Linked DNA regions of Homo sapiens: region 1 is linked to region 2. Evidence: fine-mapped expression QTL. A gene starts in region 2. The other region holds a variant in brackets. All regions are shown on one strand. Distances are from middle to middle.

What was found. PIP is the estimated chance that this variant, and not a neighbour inherited with it, causes the effect. A credible set is the group of variants that fine-mapping cannot tell apart.
Region 1: its variant is the best candidate, but not a certain one, in a credible set for the expression of MARCHF10 in NK cells (Gilchrist 2021, PIP 0.73).

What each region holds. Positions count from the first base shown.
Region 1 is chr17:62,708,918-62,714,288 of GRCh38, reverse strand. MARCHF10 (membrane associated ring-CH-type finger 10) reads left to right here. Exons shown (of 11, transcript NM_152598.4): 9 at 2,945-3,058. All of the region lies in intron 2 of MARCHF10-AS1 (MARCHF10 antisense RNA 1), which reads right to left. Among named protein-coding and RNA genes, the nearest start is that of MARCHF10-AS1, 5.4 kb to the right of the region's middle. The variant A/G (reference allele first, on the strand shown) is at 2,418.
Region 2 is chr17:62,805,415-62,810,785 of GRCh38, reverse strand. It overlaps MARCHF10 (membrane associated ring-CH-type finger 10), which reads left to right and starts at 2,472. Exons shown (of 11, transcript NM_152598.4): 1 at 2,472-2,709. It overlaps MARCHF10-DT (MARCHF10 divergent transcript), which reads right to left and starts at 2,284. Exons shown (of 2, transcript NR_135634.1): 1 at 1,835-2,284. RefSeq lists a silencer at 2,434-2,583.

The DNA of each region.
Region 1 (5,371 bases), 96 kb after region 2:
GTGTCCGGTGGCCCTGCACTGCCCACCTTAGCCGGCAGCGCTTTCCAGGTAAGATGCACTCCAGGGGCCCCTGCTCACTGAATTGGAACACACCCCTGCCATCCTTGCTCTGCCGCACAGGAGAGTCTCAGTGGGCCTCAGGCTGTCATTGCTGTGAAGCACAGGCCTGGCCTGGCTCCATCTCAGCCAAGGACAGATGTCCTCAGACACACGCAGTCACCTAATCACCCTTATACCTAGGAGCACTCTTGAATATATTTGAAGACTTGATAGAACATTCAGCCAGGCTGTCAGCTTCTTTAAGTGGAATATATTGAGAATTTCCGTCAGTAGCAAGTCTCTTGGCCTAAATGAATATTAGCAAAATGGAGAAAACAGCTGGCAGGTGGGCTGAGATCTCCGGAGCCCTTTTGCGCTGTTTCACATGCCTTCTCCTTTTTAATGTCCCCGCCCCCTCCTATTAATGCCACCCCCATTCCCTTCAGTCTGGCACACAAAGGGAACTCCACGTGGGAGTCAAAGTGTGATGTGATTGGGACAAGGAAGGGGTGGATGGGCCGTAGCTCCAGTAAGCCCTGCTCCAAAACCTCGTTCATTTGGCCCTGGCCAGCCAAGTGCGGTGGAACTCTTTGAGTTAACAAATCCCTCCCACTTGTAGCTCAGGAGTGTAAAGGCTGATTCGGAGTTGACTATCACACGCCTGCTCTGATTGGTGGGCTGAGCCCCTTTGTCGAGCATCACCAGCTCTGCAAAGGGCGCACATAAAGGAACCGAGCCGGCGAGATTGATGGCACTGTGTGGCAGGTTCCCTCCCACAGATCAGAGAAGAGACACAATCTGCTAGAAGTGACTTTTCAAATTATCTGCAGAAAACATTAGTGGATATTCTCCCATCTGCATGCCTCTGGGCCTTATTGAGTCATAAAAAGTAAATGATTTTCCTGAATGCTTTGACAAACCTGATAGTTCCAAACCATTTTCTAGCTGATTGATTTGTCATCATGCATCCCGGTGTCTCAAGCATAAAAGCTGGCTGGCAAAGAGCACTGGTGAGAGAACCACTGGCAGCTTTTGCAGGAGGAAGCCGGGGATGAGGTAAACAAATAAGGACCAAGGCTTTGTTGGTGAGGAGGAGCTAAAAGCCAGGTGAGGAAGGCTTCTCAGAAGAGGTGGTTGGCGAGACAGTCGGAGGCAGGCACAGACTCACGGGGAGGGCAGGAGGAGGCAATTAAAACAGAAAAAGTGGCTAGGCAGGGTGGCTTACACCTGTAATCCCAGCACTTTGGGAGGCCAAGGCAGGTGGATCACCTGAGGCCAGGAGTTCGAGACCAGCCTGGCCAACATGATGAAACCCCATCTCTACTAAAAATACAAAAATTAGCTGGGCGTGGTGGTGCACACCTGTAATCCCAGCTACTCAGGAGGCTGAGGCAGGAGAATTGCTTGAACCTGGGAGGTGGAGGTTGCAGTGAGCCGAGATCACGCCATTGCACTCCAGCCTGGGCAAGACTGTGTCTGTCTCAAAAATAAAATTAAATAAATAAAACAGAAATAATGCAAACAAGCAACTTCTTCTCTACTCACTCTAGGCCAAGGTCAGCAGAGCACAAAAAACACGACCAAAGGCTAAAAATAGGAGGCTAACTGCTAAGGACAGAGGACTGGGGCCTTCGAAGATGGATCTGTAGAATGGTGGAGAGGCCTGCAGCAGTGATCTCAGGGCCGGCTGTCACCAAGATCCAGAGTTGGCCCTGATTCAGAAGGAAGAGCATATCAATCCTTGCTCAACTTCTGTGCCTTTTCTGGCAGCTGCTTGGTCCTGGGAGAGGTGGGTTCTGTGCCAACCTCCTGAGCTGCCCTGGATCTAATGAGAACAGGAAGATGTGGCACCCGCGCTGCTGCAGGAAGAAGGCAGATGAGACACTGAGTGCTCACTGTGTCATTCATGCCCACGCATCGTTATCCTGGGCCGACAGAGTCACAGTTGCAAGCTTTCCCAAGGGTGACGGAAGGGGCCATGCCCTCTGCTGGGGACTCTATTCCCCGGGGGCTGGGTGGCTTTGTGAGCACAGCCTGGCCCATCCCAAGACCCCCACTCAAGGGAAAGATGGGGACTGAAAGGGCCTTCCCCTCCTTCCCCTATAGAGGGATAGGAGTAGTTGTTACTAATACCACTGATTTATGGAAGGTCTGTGAAAGGTCTAGAGTGAGCACAGCCACTCTTGGCAGCAAAGCCCAAGTGCTAAGGACAGAGAAGTGCCATGGGCAGCCAGACCATCACATCCTCCCTGTGTAGCGCCTGTTCTGAGCACCAGCGAGAAAAAAAGCACAGCCCACTCCTCAAGAGAAAGCGGAAACGTTAACAAGTGCAAAAGGTGATATGCAAGATCAAGACGAATGCTTAGGGACTGGGAAGC[A/G]AAGGAATGATGGGGGCAAAGGAGGCTCCTCAGGAAGCCTTTCACAAGGGGACATCTGTGACTGCTGAGAACGTTATGGACAAGGCCTGGTGCATCTCTGTTGTAGCACCCGACACATCCAGCTTGTACTGGAGCTGTTTACCGATGAAGCTCTCTCCCCCACACCAGGTGATCGGTTCCCAGCAGGGAGTTCTGAGGCTTTTTGCCCTGTGTTCCCCACAACATCCAGCTCAAGGCTTTGCATATGTAACTGCTCAATAAATGTGGAATGGGATTGAGCCTGGAAAATGGAACTTTCTCCGAGCATCCTCCACTAGCTAGTAAAAAATCCCAGGGGAGTGGCTGCCCTGGCCTCTACCCTGGATCTCCTCCTGCTCTGTCTTCTGGTCCCCAAGAGCAGGCCTTGCCTTGGAGCTTGGGCTCTTCTCCCAGTTCTTGTCACCTCTTAGCCTTGTTACCCTGCATCCCACAATTTAGACCATGACTATTTTACAGATGAACTGAAGAGCTTTCTTTTCCATTTGTAGGCACAAAACGAGCTGATGAATTCAGGCTTGTACCTGGTGCTGCTGCTTCACCTCTATGAGCAGAGGTTTGCAGAACTCATGAGGCTCAACCACAACCAGGTGGAAAGAGAGAGGGTAAGTCTGGCTGTGACCCAGAGCTGTCCGGTGGCAGCCCTGAAAACCCTGCAGTGCTGTTTATTAGATGTGCAAGCTGTTGAGGTCCTCACGGTCGCTTGGGAGGATATGGGACTATCATTGTTAGGACTAAGATTTAGCAGCTGCTAAGTGTACACATGGTGACCCTCTGGCTGAAAAGTAAGTGACGATCACATAATTGCTTATTATTAAACATGAGTAGTAATTAAATGGTCATCAATGGTCATATAACCGAATGAGCCTCTAGGATATTTGCCCCCCAAAAATAGAGGAGAGCAAGGATGCAGGGGCTGGTTGTGTATTACGTGTGGGCACCCGAACATGGAGGACCTGCGAAAAAGAGGAACCTGGCTGGGTGTGATGGCTCATGCCTGTAATCCCAGCGCTTTGGGAGGCCGAGGCTAGAGGATCACTTGAGCTCAGGAATTTGAGGCCAACCTGGCCAACATGGTGAAACCCTGTCTCTACTAAAATTACAAAAAAATTAGCTGGGTGTGGTGGCACACGCCTGTAATCCCAGCTACTTGGGAGGTTGAGGCAGGAGAATCGCTGGAACCCAGAAGACAGAGGTTGCAATGAGCTGAGATTGTGCCACTGCACTCCAGCCTGGGTGACAGAATGAGACTCCGTCTCAAAAAAAAAAAAAAAAAAAAAAAAAAGCTGGGTTCAAACTGTTAGTCATAAGAAACCTAGATTTTTTTTTTTCTGGCTCACATTCTCTCCTTAGACCCTGAGCTCTCAATTAAGACAACAGGCTGGGGCTCTGCCAAGATATCTCCTCAAGAATCTCACCCTCCTTTTGACCCAGGCCTGTCCTTCCTAAACTCTTCCATGGTTTAAATGCTGACATAAATTTCTCAAAGAAATACATTTTTTAAAAAAGAAAAGTACCAGAAGCAGGATATGATCCTTTGTTAACATTTCTGTAACCTTATTTTCATGATTCCACATCTTTTTAATGAACTTTTTATTGCACACTGAACTTCAAAGCATCCGGGGTTGATACAGGTTACAGATGGCCCCAAGAGCAGTGAGCCAATGCAAGCAACATTAGCCACCAGGCTTGCAAAGCAAACATGACAAACGACAAACAGTACAACCCAACAGATGAAGACCAAAGCCCTAAAGCACTGCCTCTAAAGAAACTTCCAGTAAATCTGTCCTGGACTAGGAAGAAGTTGCAAGGAGCAAGCTGGGAACCAGAGCAAAAAGCAGCAGGAGGGACCAGGGACACTCTTCTCTCACCACAAGCTCACATTGAACTGGAGAAACCCTGAAATTGATCTCACCCACTTAGACCACCGAGCAGTAACAGGTACAGATAACCAGTTAAGAGGCACCCAGGCCCGGTGCCGTTGATGCTGCCGGGAGGCTGACGCTGCAGTGAGCCATGATTGGTGCCACCGCACTCCAGCCTGTGTGACAGAGTGAGACCCTGTTTAAAACAAAAAACAAAAAAAGGCACCCAAATGAAAGTAGGAAACCAACTGGCTCTTGTTAAATTCACACTTCTTGATTTGCATCTCAGTAATTTCTCGTAGAAAACATTCAGAATCTGATGGTAACATTGAGCAAAAGAGAGGCACTAAGTCAGCAGAGAAGCCCTCCTTCCCTCTCCTTCATCTACCAGAACTGGAGAATTCACTCACATTGTGTTTCTTGGTTGTGTCTCATGAAGAGACCCAGTGATGGATGCCTCGTTTTTTTTGTTTTGTTTTTTTGTTTTATTTTTTTGAGACAAGAGTCTTGCTCTGTCACCCAGGCTGGAGTGCAGTGGCTCAATCTCAGCTCACTGCAACCTCTGCCTCCCGGGTTCCAGTGATTCTCCTGCCTCCACCTCCTGAGTAGCTGGGATTATCGGTGTATTGTGCCCGGCTAATTTGTGTATTTTTAGTAGAGGCAGGGTTTCACCATGTTGGTCAGGCTGGTCTCGAACTCCTGACCTCAGGTGATCCACCTGCCTTGGCCTCCCAAAGTGCTGGGATTACAGGTGTGAGCCCCCGTGCCCGGCTGACAAATGCCTGTTAATGGTGGTGATCATTTGTCATCCATTCATGCACTGCCCTGTACCAGGTGCGGAGATGAGGATCAGGGAAAGAAGCTACTAGACGCTAGACATGACGCCCTGATGTCCCTTTCCGTAAAGAGCTTGTCAAGGAGTTGAAAGAGGAGACACATATTTATAAAACCAGGAAATAACTGGAAAGTAGCACCTGTGCAAGAGAACTAGTGGACCCAGTGAATTCCTACAGGCTGTGAATTTGACAACATAAGCTCTTCCCTGGCTGGGGC
Region 2 (5,371 bases):
CCACAGCAAGCTTTTGAGATAGATAGTATTATTTTAATAGATCTTGTCTGGGTACAGGAAGTACCAAGGTGCTTTTCTTAGTAGTGGGCAACATCAAGTTACTGGAGATGGAAAGCCCTGTTTTTGAACCCTGGTTCTGGTACTTACCATATGTTCTGGTCATGTCCCTTACCTTCAACAAGGTGAGAACCTGGGCTTCAACTTCCTCCTCTGTTATTTTTATTTGAGGTGGGTCCTCGCGCCAACAGAACAAGCTCCCTACCTATCATTTCACTATTATAGTTTCAACCCAGTGTGCGCATCCAAACTTTTTTTTTTTTTTTTGAGACAGAGTTTCTTGTCGCCCAGGCTGGAGTGCAACCTCCGCCTCCTGGGTTCAAGCAATTCTCCTGCCTCAGCTTCCTGAGTAGCTGGGTTTACAGGTGGCTGCCAGCACACCTGGCTAATTTTTGTATTTCTAGTTGAGATGGGGTTTCACCATGTTGGCCAGGCTGGTCTCAAAACTCCTGACCTCAGGTGATCCCCCTGCCTCGGCCTCCCAAAGTGCTGGGATTACAAGCGTGAGCCACCATGCCTGGCCCAAAGCATATCCTTTTGAAAGGCAAAAACCATGAGGCAAGTTCTTAGGTTACATCCTTATCAGTTAATACTTCAATTATCAGTTAATGCTTTACTAAGGAATACTTGATAATCAGCTGAGAACAAGAACAGAATATGGACTGGGCTACTAGAGATGAAAAGATCCTAGGGTCTGCTGGAGGACCAGCGAAGTTCAGATGGGAAAGTGCCCAGTGGAAAGACTTCAGCTAAGTACATTTGTCTAGACTCTGCCCAGCTCATGATATGTCTTTGAAGCTGGTGTGAAGGCAAGGAAAAATGTTCAGTGTGTAACACATAGTCCCATCTGGCTGAAGTATGAGTGAAGAAGTGATGAAGGGGAAAAACCAAGAAAGGAAACTGTGGGGGAGGGCACAGGGAAAGTCATAGTGACGAGTTTGGACTTCATTCCACAGGCGGTGAGGAACCTTTCAGGGCTTTTTAAGCAGGGGGCCAGCAACATTAGATGTAGGCTGCTTATAGGATGGGGGAAATGGTGAAGATAGGGTGTGGAGGACAGGCGCCCAGGGTGTGACCAGGAGGCCCTCAGAATAATCCATGGAGCCCAAAACTAGGTCATGGAGCCCAAAACTAGAGTGATAAGAATAGAAAGAAGAATGTGACGCTGCCAAGGACTTGGCACCAACTGAATGGGGGGAAGGGGAGGTGTTGAGAAGACGGTCAAACCACAGACACCTAGGGATTCCGGGCACTGATGAAAGTTCCAAGAATTTCTATTCTTCCTTTACCTTACTCTCCACTCAATCAAAAATACCCTAACTTGACATCAGTTGACAAGTTGAGAGCCTAAATATGCAAAGTAAATAGGGGAGTCATCTTTGCCCATGAGAACCACAGACAGACATCAACCCGGCAAAGCCGGGCAAGGTGGCTCATGCCTGTAATCCCAGCACTTTCGGAGGCCCAGGCGGGCGGATCACTTGAGGTCAGGAGTTCGAGACCAGCCTGGCCAACATGGAGAAACCCCGTCTCTACTTAAAAAAAAAAAAAAAATACAAAAACTAGCCGGGTGTGGTGGCGCATGCCTGTAATCCCAGCTACTCGGACGGCTGAAGCATGAAAATCGCTTGAGCCCCGGAGGCAGAGGTTGCAGTGAGCCAAGATCGTGCCACTGCACTGTCCAGCCTGAGCTACAGAGCAAGACTCTGTCTAAAAAAAAAAAAAAGAAAGAAAGAAAAAAAAGAAAAGAAAAGAAAAGAAAAAGAAAGAAATCAACCTGGCACAGAGAAGGTGAGGGTAGTAGCGGTTCTGGTGCCCTGGCTCCAAAGCTGTAGGGCCTGGTCTAGGCCTCTAAGCACCTCTCTCCTTGGAAAGGGGGTGAAGACGACTGATTACGAAGAGGCCTGGGCTCTAATGTCGGTTCTGCCACTGACTGGGTGCCTGGCTTCATCGCTTATTTCTTCTTTTTCGTGTTGGACCAGAGCATTCCAGATGTCCTCTGCAGAGGTCGAACTCCAGGACTGCAGTATCTTTTCCTCTTCGCATGTACCGCTTTTCACATTCCCTGATTCCATTAAAAATATTTTCCTCTCTCGTTTTCTAATCTCATTTTTTATGAAGCACAGCACCCTTTCAGGGAAGGGAGCAGAGGCCTGGATATCTGGGTCTGGGCTTGGGCACCCAGACAAAGCCAACCGCCTCCTCCTTGGGCATCTCTTCTCTGCCCACCAGCGTGGCTCTGACTCCCCGACTGCAGCCCGCCTCGTTCCCACGGCAACCGGCGGGCGCCCACGACTGGCTTGGGACCCCGGGGCCACAGCCCCGCCCCGCCCCGCCCCGTGCTCTCGGCGGCTGCACCTGGTCGCGCGGGGGCGGGGAGGCGCGGTTGCTAGGGAAACCGGAGGACGCCCGGTAGCCGCCCCCACCGCCTCCGCCCCAGGCAAGGCCGGCCGGCGCCGCGGAAAGCAGCCTCGGGGAAGGAGGAGGAAGAGGGGCAGGTGTAGGGAGTGAAGAAGCAAAAAGAGGAGGAGGAAGAGGAGCTCAGGGCCGTCCCCGCGCAATTAATGGGCGGCTCCTGCGCCCTGGACCGGCCCGCCCGCCCAGCCCCTCGACCCCTGTAGCCCCGGCAGGGGAGGAAGGGCAGACCCACAGGTAACGGCCCCCTCGCCCCCGCCGCTCCGCTCCAGTTCTCCCAGGATGGGGGACAACCTTCCCTTTCGACTTACAAGATTCTGGAGGGAAACCGGGCCTGACATCCGGTGGCCTGGCCGTCCCCTCCCCTCGGCTGACCCCAGCCCCAGCATTTTTCTGTCTCAGAGGGACAGGTTTGGGGGAGACCGTGAACCTTTGCTCACTGGCACCCACATTCTTTCCTGCAGACGCCACTGGTCAGAAAAGGTATACACAGACCATGGCCCACTGGGCTTCTGAATGCGAAATGGTCGATATTGATTTTGTTTATTTTTGAGAAGGAGTCTCGCTCTGTCTCCCAGGTTGGAGTGCAGCGGTGCAGTCAGGGCTCACTGCAGCCTCGACCTCCCAGGCTCAAGCGATCCTCCCGCCTCAGCCTCCCGGTGGTAGCTGGGACCACAGGCCAACACCATGTCTGGCTAATGTTTTAAATTATTTGTAAAGAAGGGGTCTCGTTATGTTTCTCTGGCTGGATATTGTTATTAATGATGGCACTGAATTGCTTGTCAAACCTGTGACGTTTCCTCCCCCAGAGTTTCCCAATTACACGTTGAGTTTCTCCTCTCTTCTGGGCTTGATGGTCGAAATGTGACCACCTATCTCTCCTAGTTTCACAGTAAAATGAAGAGTCACCGCCAAACACAAGTCTGTTCCCCACCCTCCACCCCGCCCCCAACTCTTAAGCCAAATTGGCTGGAAGAGTTGAAAGATCTCCTTACCTTTCCCAACCAATTCCCCCTTTTTCTCTGCAGTCACAGTATTCTTAAATTGGGCCCAAATCGTAAACTTTGTTGCTTATACTCAAGACATGTTTATAAGCTAAGACTTTAAAATGCAAAGTTTTTTTTAGAGCTAAGATTTAAACAAATCCTATAATGTCTGACATTACAAATTAATCAATTGGGGAAAAGGTTGAATAAGGTCTCCTGAAATCCTTCTCCAATCACCTAATTGTGGAAAGGGAGTAATTTTCGAGCCTGATTGTCCGGTATTAACAATAGCCATTTAGATTTTATTTCAAAGCAACCTTCCGTCTAAGGAGGAGGTTAGATTGTTTACATTTCCTTTATTGCTTAACAGCATATTAACTTTAGTGATGTCTTTCTCTTATGAGAACATAGTAAGAAACCAATAAGACTTTGATTGTTATTAAGAACAGGCTCCTTCAAATCAGTTCTTTTGACAAATGTGGTCATAAAACAGAGGGATGGTACGTATGCATGACTTTTAGAGCACTGAAAAACATTCTGCAATCAGATTCTGTTCCCCTCAGTCAGGAAAACTTGGTTGGAATTCACTGGAAAATTACACTAGAGAAGAACGTGTATGTCACAAAGTTCTTAGAATATTCCCCCATTAAAATTTCACAGATATGTAGAATTTTGAGGCCAAGAAGAATTACTCGCTCTTGCTTTCAGCAAGGCAGGACCCCCTCCTTCCTTCTCCACCTGCCTCCAACTCCCTCCTCCTTTCTCTCTCCCTACTTAATATGGCTTCTTATGTTGATTTCTAAAGCACAGATTTGGCACAAGACATTATCACCAGAAAGACTTAAAACAGAAGTGTGCATAACCATGAGTGGGTTTTAAATTAAGAAGCAGTTCAAAGGTGAGCGATAGAAGAGAATACAGAGTGCTATTTTAGAAACATGCGCCTTGCTCACATTTTATTATCACCCCCACCCCAACCCTCTGTGTTTGCTGGGGAAAAATTCTTGGCTTCAAGTGGCCATCTGGTTGAGTAGGCCCACAAAGCTGAGATCCATGAATTAAGCATTATCTCATGTAGTTTTATTTCCATACTGTTATTTCTGTTTCTTGTTCATCCTGGTCAGTTTTTCAAACTGACTGAGTGCAGTATGAACTTCAAGCAAACACAGAGAATGTTTGCTTATACTGAGGTAACCCACCATCTTCTTGGTCTGACACTAATACCGTTTTCTTGGTTCCCGTAATATTTGTTTAATCTCATGAAGACTTGATGTATTTAAATAAAAAATTACATGTGGCACCACGATGTTTCTAAATATTGTAAAATACAATGTAATAGAGAGTTTATGGGAAGGAAGAGAGACTTTTGTAGGCAATTTTATTTTTATTATTTTATTATTATTATTATTATTTTTTTTTATTTTTGAGGGGATGGAGTCTCTCTCTGGAGTGCAGTGGTGCGATCTTGGCTCACTGCAACCTCCGCCTTCCAGGTTCAAGTGATTCTTCTGTCTCAGCCTCCCAAGTAGCTGGGACTACAGGAGTGCACCACCACGCCCAGCAAATTTTTGTATTTTTAGTAAAGATGGGGTTTTGCCACGTTGGCCAGGCCGATCTCGAACTCCTGACCTCAAGTGATCCACCTGCCTTGGCCTCTGTAAGTGCTGGGATTACAGGCATTTTAAAGTCCTTTATTTGGTAGGTGATTGTGAAGTCAGAGGTAACTTAGCAAGTAATTCAAAGGGTGCTACTTCCTATTTAGACAAAGTTATTTCATGCCTCTTGACTTAGAAGCCTCCTTAAATTAACCCTGCTCTAAAGCCGTGATAGATTAACCGGCTTTCTATATTAACTTTGGCAACCAAAATGTATCATCCAAGTGGACTCTGGGATGCTCCCCTTTAGTGACCATT